2 linked regions of the Homo sapiens genome follow. The protein of the gene in region 2 interacts with the protein of the main gene of each other region in a biochemical or structural test. Each region holds a gene or a part of one and is shown on either strand. Other genes may lie near its edges. The genes, in order: RAB6A and KIF20A.

Region 1 (3,818 bases), on a different chromosome or scaffold from region 2:
CCTATATGATGTGTAATATTACAGGATTGAATGCATAAGCAGCTATGCAAATCCAATTGTCCTCTATTAAGTCAGACATTAAAGAGATTTGCAAATATGTAAAACAATGTCACTCTCACTAAATATCTGTTTGGAAAATAGTTCTTTTTCATTTCAGAAATGATGTTAACATGAAGGCTGGGCACAGTGGCTCATGCCTGTAATCCCAGCACTTTGGGAGACCAAGGCAAGCAGGTCACTTGAGGCCAGGAGTTTGAGACCAGCCTGGCCAATATAGCAAAACCCTGTCTCTACTAAAAAGTCAAAAAATTAGCCAGGCATGGCGGCATGTACCTGTGGTCCCAGCTATTCAGGAGGCTGAGGCATGAGAATCGCGAACCCGGGAGGCACTCACTCCATCCTGGGCAACAGAGGGATGCAGTCAAAAAAAAAAAGGGTATTAACATGCAATGGGTTTATTATTATTATTATTATTTTTTTGAGATGGAGTTTTGCTCGTTGCCCAGGCTGGAGTGCAATGGCGTGATCTTGGCTCACTGCAACCTCCACCTCCCGGGTTCAAGGGACTCTCCTGCCTCAGCCTCCTGAGTAGCTGGCACTACCACTGGGACCGTCCACCACCATGCCAGGCTAATTTCTTTGTATTTTTAGTAGAGACGGGGTTTCACCATATTGGCCAGGTTGGTCTCAAACTTCTGGCCTCAAGTGATCCGCCCACCTCGGCCTCTCAAAATGCTGGGATTACAAGCATGAGCCACCACGCTCGGCCCTATTATTTTTTAACATATTAAATATTTTGAAATTTTCTTTTTCAATACAGTAAATGTTGATATATTTATTCATTTATTTTGAGATGGAGCCTCACTCTGTTGCCCAGGCTGGAGCGCAGTGGCACGATCTTGGCTCACTGCAACCTCCACCTCCCGAGTTCAAGCAATGCTCCTGCCTCAGCCTCCCGAAGAGCTGGGACTACAGGCACGCACCACCATGCCCGGCTAATTTTGTATTTTTAGTAGAAACGGGGTTTCGCCATGTTGCCCAGGCTGGTCTCGAACCCCTGACCTCAGGTGATCCACCCACTTCGGCCTCCCAAAGTGCTGGGATTATAGGCGTGAGCCACCGCACCCGGCCTAAATGTTGACATAAACTACATAAACAAAAGTCAGGCACAGTGGCATGTGCCTATAGTCCCAGCTACTAGGGAGGCTGAGGCAGGAGGAGAGCTTGAGACAAGGCTGCAGTTGGCCATGATAGCCCCTGTGAACAGTCACTGCATCCAAGAAGGGGGAAGGAAATGGGAAGAGGAAAGGAGGAAGGAAGGGAGAAAAGGAAAGGAAGGGGGAGGTGGAAAGGGGGAAGGAAGGGAGAAGGGGGAAGGAAGAGAAAGAAGAGGAGGAGGAGGAAGAAGAACAAGAGGAGGAGGAGAAGGAAGAGGAGGAGGAAGAAGAGGAGGAGGAGAAAGAAGAGGAGGAGGAGGAAGAAGAACAACAATAACAACTACATTAACAGAGCTCTTCAGGATCCTCAAAAATTTGTAAGAGCAGAAAGGGGTCTTGGGGAAAAAAAGTTTAAAAACCACTGATCTAGCCAATATAAAATGTTCAGTACTGGCCAGGCGTGGTGGCTCACACCTGTAATCCCAGCACTTTGGGAGGCTGAGGCCGGAGGATCTCGCCAGCTCAAAACTTTGAGACCAGCCTGGGCAACATGGTAAAATCCCATCTCTACAAAAAAATACAAAAATTAGCCAGGCGTGGTGGTGCGTGCCTGTTGTCCCAGCTACTTGGGAGGCTGAGGTGGGAGGATCACTTGAGCCTGGGAGGTGGAGGGTGCAGTGAGCTGAGATCACACCACTGCACTCCAGCCTGAGTGACAGAGGTAGACCCCGTCTCAAAAGAAAAACAACTGGTCAGTACTGCTAGTCTCTGACAATAAGACATTTTTTCCTTATCTAACATATTGCAATTTGATCAGCATTGATGGAAAAAAAGAAAAGGCAATATAAAGTGAAAAAAACAGTAGTAGGCTGAGTATGCGCTTCTCTCTGCCATTACATCTCCTAATTTATAATTGGTAACATGTATATATAGTGAAATCTTCTACTGTAAACCACTGAGTGACATTACTAAAACTGCCTCTGCATCTCAAGACAATAGCCAGAGGTAGTAACAAAACAGACTCCTCAAGGAAACTTCCAATTGTGTATTTCAACATTCCTTTATTTATTTATTTAGAGACAAAGTCTCGCTCTGAGGCCCAGGCTGGAGTGCAGTGGGGCAATCTCAGTTCACTGCAACCTCCACCTCCTGGGTTGCAGTTTTCCTGCCTCAGCCTCCTGAGTAGCTGGGATTACAGGCACACGCCACCACGCCCAGCTAGTTTTTGGATTTTTAGTAGAGATGGGATTTTGCCATGTTGGCCAGGCTGGTCTTGAACTCCTGACCTCAGGTGATTTGCCTGCCTCGGACTCCTAAAGTGCTGGGATTACAGGCGTGAGCCACCACGCCCAGCCAAACATTCCTTTATTAAACCGTAAGAATTTATCTAAGGTTAAGATTGATGTCATTAACTCAATCTGCTTCATGTACTGACACAATTCATTTTCACTATAGAGCGTAGTATCTTAAATATACATACATATATATATATATATATATATATATATATATTTTTTTTTTTTTTTTTTTTTTTTTTTTTCTTGAGACAGAGTCTCACTCTGTCACCCAGGCTGCAGTGCAATGGCATGATCTCAGCTCACTGCACCCTCCGCCTCTCAGGTTCAAGCGATTCTCCTGCCTCAGCCTCCTGAGTAGCTGGGATTACAGGCTCCCACCCGCCATCATACCTGGATAATTTTTGTATTTTTGTAGAGACCGGGCCATGGGGTGGGGGGGAGCCGGGGACTCCACCATGTTAGCCAGGCTGGTCTTGAACTGCTGACCTCAGATGATTCACCTATCTCAGCCTCCCAAAGTGCTGGGATTACAGGCATGAACCACCGCACCCAGCCTAGTATCTTAAATTTTTGATAAGCCAAATAAAACCTAATTTCAAATCAGTTCCATGAGCACATCATTGGTATAATTTGAATACTTTTCATGCGTTACATTAATAGCAAATAATTTAACAACTTTAATAAAGGAAGACGAATTTTGCTCAACTCAAAAAAAAGTACAAAATTCAGGTCAGTCCTATTTTTTGAATGAAATGGTTGGGCCTCTAAACGATTGGTTTCTCTACCCCCTTAAGTATCTGATATATTCCTGTATACAATCAAATGATGTAAGTTTTAAGTGTTATTGTTAAACTATCAATTGCGTAACCATGTCAAAGAGTGTAACATAGGCTACTAGCTTTCGTTACTACTAGATTCAGCCATCATTCATTTACCCAACATGTCTGAACAGCTACTATGAGCCTGGCTCTACGCTAGGCAATGGGGACACACTGAACAAAAAAGAATAGTTTTTATCTTCATGGGAGTTGCATTCTTCTGTGGGAAATAAAAACAAACACATAAAAAATAAGATAATTGTAAATGTGGTAAATGCTATTAAGAAGAAACAAGGCTTTGCCATAGATTACAGTCTTTGAAAGCTGAATTGTGGAATTCTAACAGACCTAAAAATAAATAATTCATGAAGAGTTACATCAAAAGGACATGGAGTCTACAGACTTCTAACGCATAAGAAAACTATAGACACTGACCATGAAAACAGAGATCAATCTTTCATTGTCAAAGCTAATGAATGGCATTACTTGACAATATAGTAACCTCAAAAGATAATTAACTTCACATCCTGAATTGAATGCTGAAA
Region 2 (3,374 bases):
TTCCTGCCCTTACTGGAGTAGTTTATAAAATCTCTTTACTTCAGGCAAGCTAGTGATGGAAATCTGAGCAGCTAATTGGAGCTGGCTCAGGGCAACTCACCTGAATCTCTTCTTGGTAAAAACTTGTCAGTGACTCCTTGAGGATATTTAGTTTTTCTTCATACATTTCCTCCAATAGTTCCTTTTGGGTGTCCAAATGTTCACTGTCAGAAACAGAGGAGAAAAGAGAGGTAAGTGAAGGTTCTGAGGAGTGAACTTGGGGAACAGATCTTGAGGCACAACTCCACCTAACTCCTTACTTCCCACCCTCTGTCTCAGGTGACAGAGCAAGAGGGGTCACTCAGCTAGTACCTGCACCACTGTTCCCGCTGTTGCATCTGTTCTACCATCTCATTGCAAATTTCATCTCGGAGATGCATCTCCAGCTGTAGCTTTTCCTGTCGTTCCTTCAAAAGCAGTGTCTTCATGGCTTCCACAACTTGTAGGAGCTCCTAGGAGAGACACACATGTCAGAGGTCATCAGATGCTCATGCCCTCAGAAGGCACAAGCCCACCTGGAAGGCACCATGGAAAAATGTGTAGCTACTAAGCTGCTACACTAAAGCTTTCTTGTATTCTCACCTCTTTGCCATACATGGAGATGTCAGCTTCATTTTCAATATCATCATCAAGGCCTGTGTCTGCCTTAGCCCCTTTCTCTAAGCTGGGGGATACCTGAAGACTATGTTCCTTGATGAACGAGTGCAGGGATGGGAATCCCAGTTGCATAGGTGGGGCATGCACAAGCTAGAGGGAAAAAAAATATCTTACTTGACTCCATAAGTAGTCCCTAGGAGCTTTCTTAGAGTTACCAGTTCCAAGTGCGCACACCCATCACACCTCTAGCTTCTCACCTGGCTAGCAATGGCTGAGAACTTGGCCACATGAAGAGTTTCATCATAGGTAGATGCACAGGGATTCACATTGACAATCATGCAGGAACGGCCTCGGCCTGTGAAGAAACCTTGGAACACTCGAGTCAACTTGCTGTCACGGAAGGGAACCAGGTTCTGCTTTGACCTGGCAGAGAATCAGAGATAATAGAGCTGTGAGCAGAACACCAGCCCTTTGGGTATCCTAGCACCATCCCCAGTGGTGTCCAGGAAGTCTCTTAGCAAATTGCAGAGCCCAGGAATTATAGTCAAAAGCTCACCGGTTCTGCTGGTTTTGACGAAGGGCAGCAATACAGCGGCCCAGGGTGTGTAGAGAGGTGTTAATGTTTCCTGCTTCCTTCAACCGTTCACCACTCTTCTGATCTTTGCAGCGCTCTGAGCCAGCCAGATCACAGAGTGACAGCCTAGAATGATGCACAGGATCTGACATAAGGGCCTCACATGTTATGAGCCTTCTGGCCCTTTGTATAATTCTGGAGAGGGGACGGCCCACTAAGAATCTCTGTACCCAAAGAAGGAGAACACATAGTTCCCCTGAGGACCTCCTCCATGCTTTCCCAACTATCATTTATGGCCAAGAAGCCCAAATTTCTAAATGGATAAACTTACTCGCTGATCTTGGGGACTATATCTCCTTCCCCCTGAAGGTGTAGGATCCTGATTGAGAAGATGCTGTGACTGGAAGTTAAGAAAAACAAAAAGTCATTGCACATTTTCCATGACCAGGCAGAGGACTAATGTTTCCTGGAACACAGTGAAGAGTTTATTCTTACAATCTACTCACCTGCGGCTGGAGTTCTGGTTGAGGTGGGTGCTGGCAAAGCTCTGGTTCTTACGACCCACTTTTAGGAGCTTCCAGGCCTCCTCAGCATCTTGCACATGAATCCAGTTGAGATCTGGGGCCAAAGGAGAGGGGTGTAAGATGGGAACATCCAACTCTTTTGCCAGTCTCTCCCCAGTTGCCCTCCAGGGTTCATGCCAGCTTTCCCCATGTTCCTTTACCTTTCACATAGGGATTGCCATTTTGATCCTCGCATAGCCGCAAAGTCTGCCTCTTGCGCTGTTGGCTAGGCGGTTCTAATAGGTCATAAAGCAGTTCGTTGTAGATCTCAAAGAATGAGATCCAGATGGAGAAGCGAATGTTTGCCGGGACAGGTAGTGGGGCAGTGTCTGGCTGTGCCCATCGATGACTTGTTTCTGGAGAAGAAGCCAATGTATAGGGCATCAACCTAGAGCAGTTCACCTCTCTTTTGGCCTGCAGGGGCCTTGGAAGGCAGACCTTAGATTGCAACCTCTGGTCTGTACTCCTGGCAGCTATTAGGAACAGGGAGTGAGTTCCTACTATTTTTTGGCAGAGCCCAGTCACGGTACATACCATCCAGCTGGCTACTGCTGGTACACTGACTGATAGAAGAGAGCCCAGCAATGCCACTGTCGAAGCTGGTGCTGGTACCTATCCGACTTTCGATGTAGACACTCCTCTTCAAGGAAGTGGACAGCTCCTCCTGGAGGGGCACAGGGAGAAGGTAAGCACAAAACTTCCCCGAGATTTGTACCCCCTACCCCCACTGCCATGGATACCAATGCTTTACCTCTTGGAGGCCTCCATTTAGCAGGGACAGCTTCTTCATTTCCTCCTGTCGGATCTGCTTGCTGTCTAGCCAGATTACCTCATTGGAGAGCAAGGGCTTCAGATCAGGTGTTGGATGAAGTTGGCCTTGGAGGCTATTGAAGATCAGCGCCAGGGACCGGGGGAGAATCCCTCCATCCTTGATGGTACCTGGAGGCATATGAAAGATGGACAGCTGAGGCAAGTGCCCTTCTCCCCCTAACTCAGAGTCTCAAAAGGTAAAAACAACACCATTACCAGCCAATCAGGAATCCCGTGAAGGCTTACTACTCACCTTGAATCGTGTGGGTTTTCCCTGAGTTAGTGACTCCATATGTATAGATGAGCCAGTTCTGCCCTTTGAGTACATCCTTTACCATCTCCTTCACAGTTAGGTTGAAGAAGGATGCCTGTCCCACTTCTGGCCCAAAGATCTAGAGAGAGACCCAGTTTTTTAGAGGCCTCTCCTTCATCTCCCACTTGCCTCCTGTGCAGAGCCAGCAGATATATTCCTTCCTGAGTGGTTGGCTCTGGAGACCACTCAAGCAGCTTCTTCCTGCAATGCTGCTGGCTGTTCCCTAAACACTGAGGACTCAAGCACTCTCTGCTAGTCCATCTTTCCACCAAATCAACAAACACTTAAGGAATGCTATGCCCTAGGCCTGATGCTGCACACACAATGGGGCAATATAATGGCCCACAAGTATGGGCTTTGGAGATACATGGATCTAGACTCAGGTCCTAACTCTACTAGTGACTAGCTACATGGCTTCAGCAATATTACATTCATTGAGCCACACTATCCTTGTGAGGAAAATAAGGAAATAATGATA

The links.
Region 1: the proteins of KIF20A (region 2) and RAB6A form a complex in vitro, tested with the Homo sapiens proteins (2 studies listed by BioGRID).

The regions. Positions count from the first base shown.
Region 1 is NC_000011.10:73,754,462-73,758,279, forward strand, and holds part of RAB6A (ras-related protein Rab-6A), read right to left. Parts: intron 1-3,818. UniProt on the Homo sapiens protein: The small GTPases Rab are key regulators of intracellular membrane trafficking, from the formation of transport vesicles to their fusion with membranes.
Region 2 is NC_000005.10:138,181,924-138,185,297, reverse strand, and holds part of KIF20A (kinesin-like protein KIF20A), read right to left. Parts: intron 2,976-3,374; coding exon 2,837-2,975; intron 2,713-2,836; coding exon 2,525-2,712; intron 2,438-2,524; coding exon 2,308-2,437; intron 2,130-2,307; coding exon 1,935-2,129; intron 1,829-1,934; coding exon 1,717-1,828; intron 1,611-1,716; coding exon 1,542-1,610; intron 1,337-1,541; coding exon 1,193-1,336; intron 1,060-1,192; coding exon 894-1,059; intron 787-893; coding exon 622-786; intron 492-621; coding exon 352-491; intron 204-351; coding exon 101-203; intron 1-100. UniProt on the Homo sapiens protein: Mitotic kinesin required for chromosome passenger complex (CPC)-mediated cytokinesis. Following phosphorylation by PLK1, involved in recruitment of PLK1 to the central spindle. Interacts with guanosine triphosphate (GTP)-bound forms of RAB6A and RAB6B.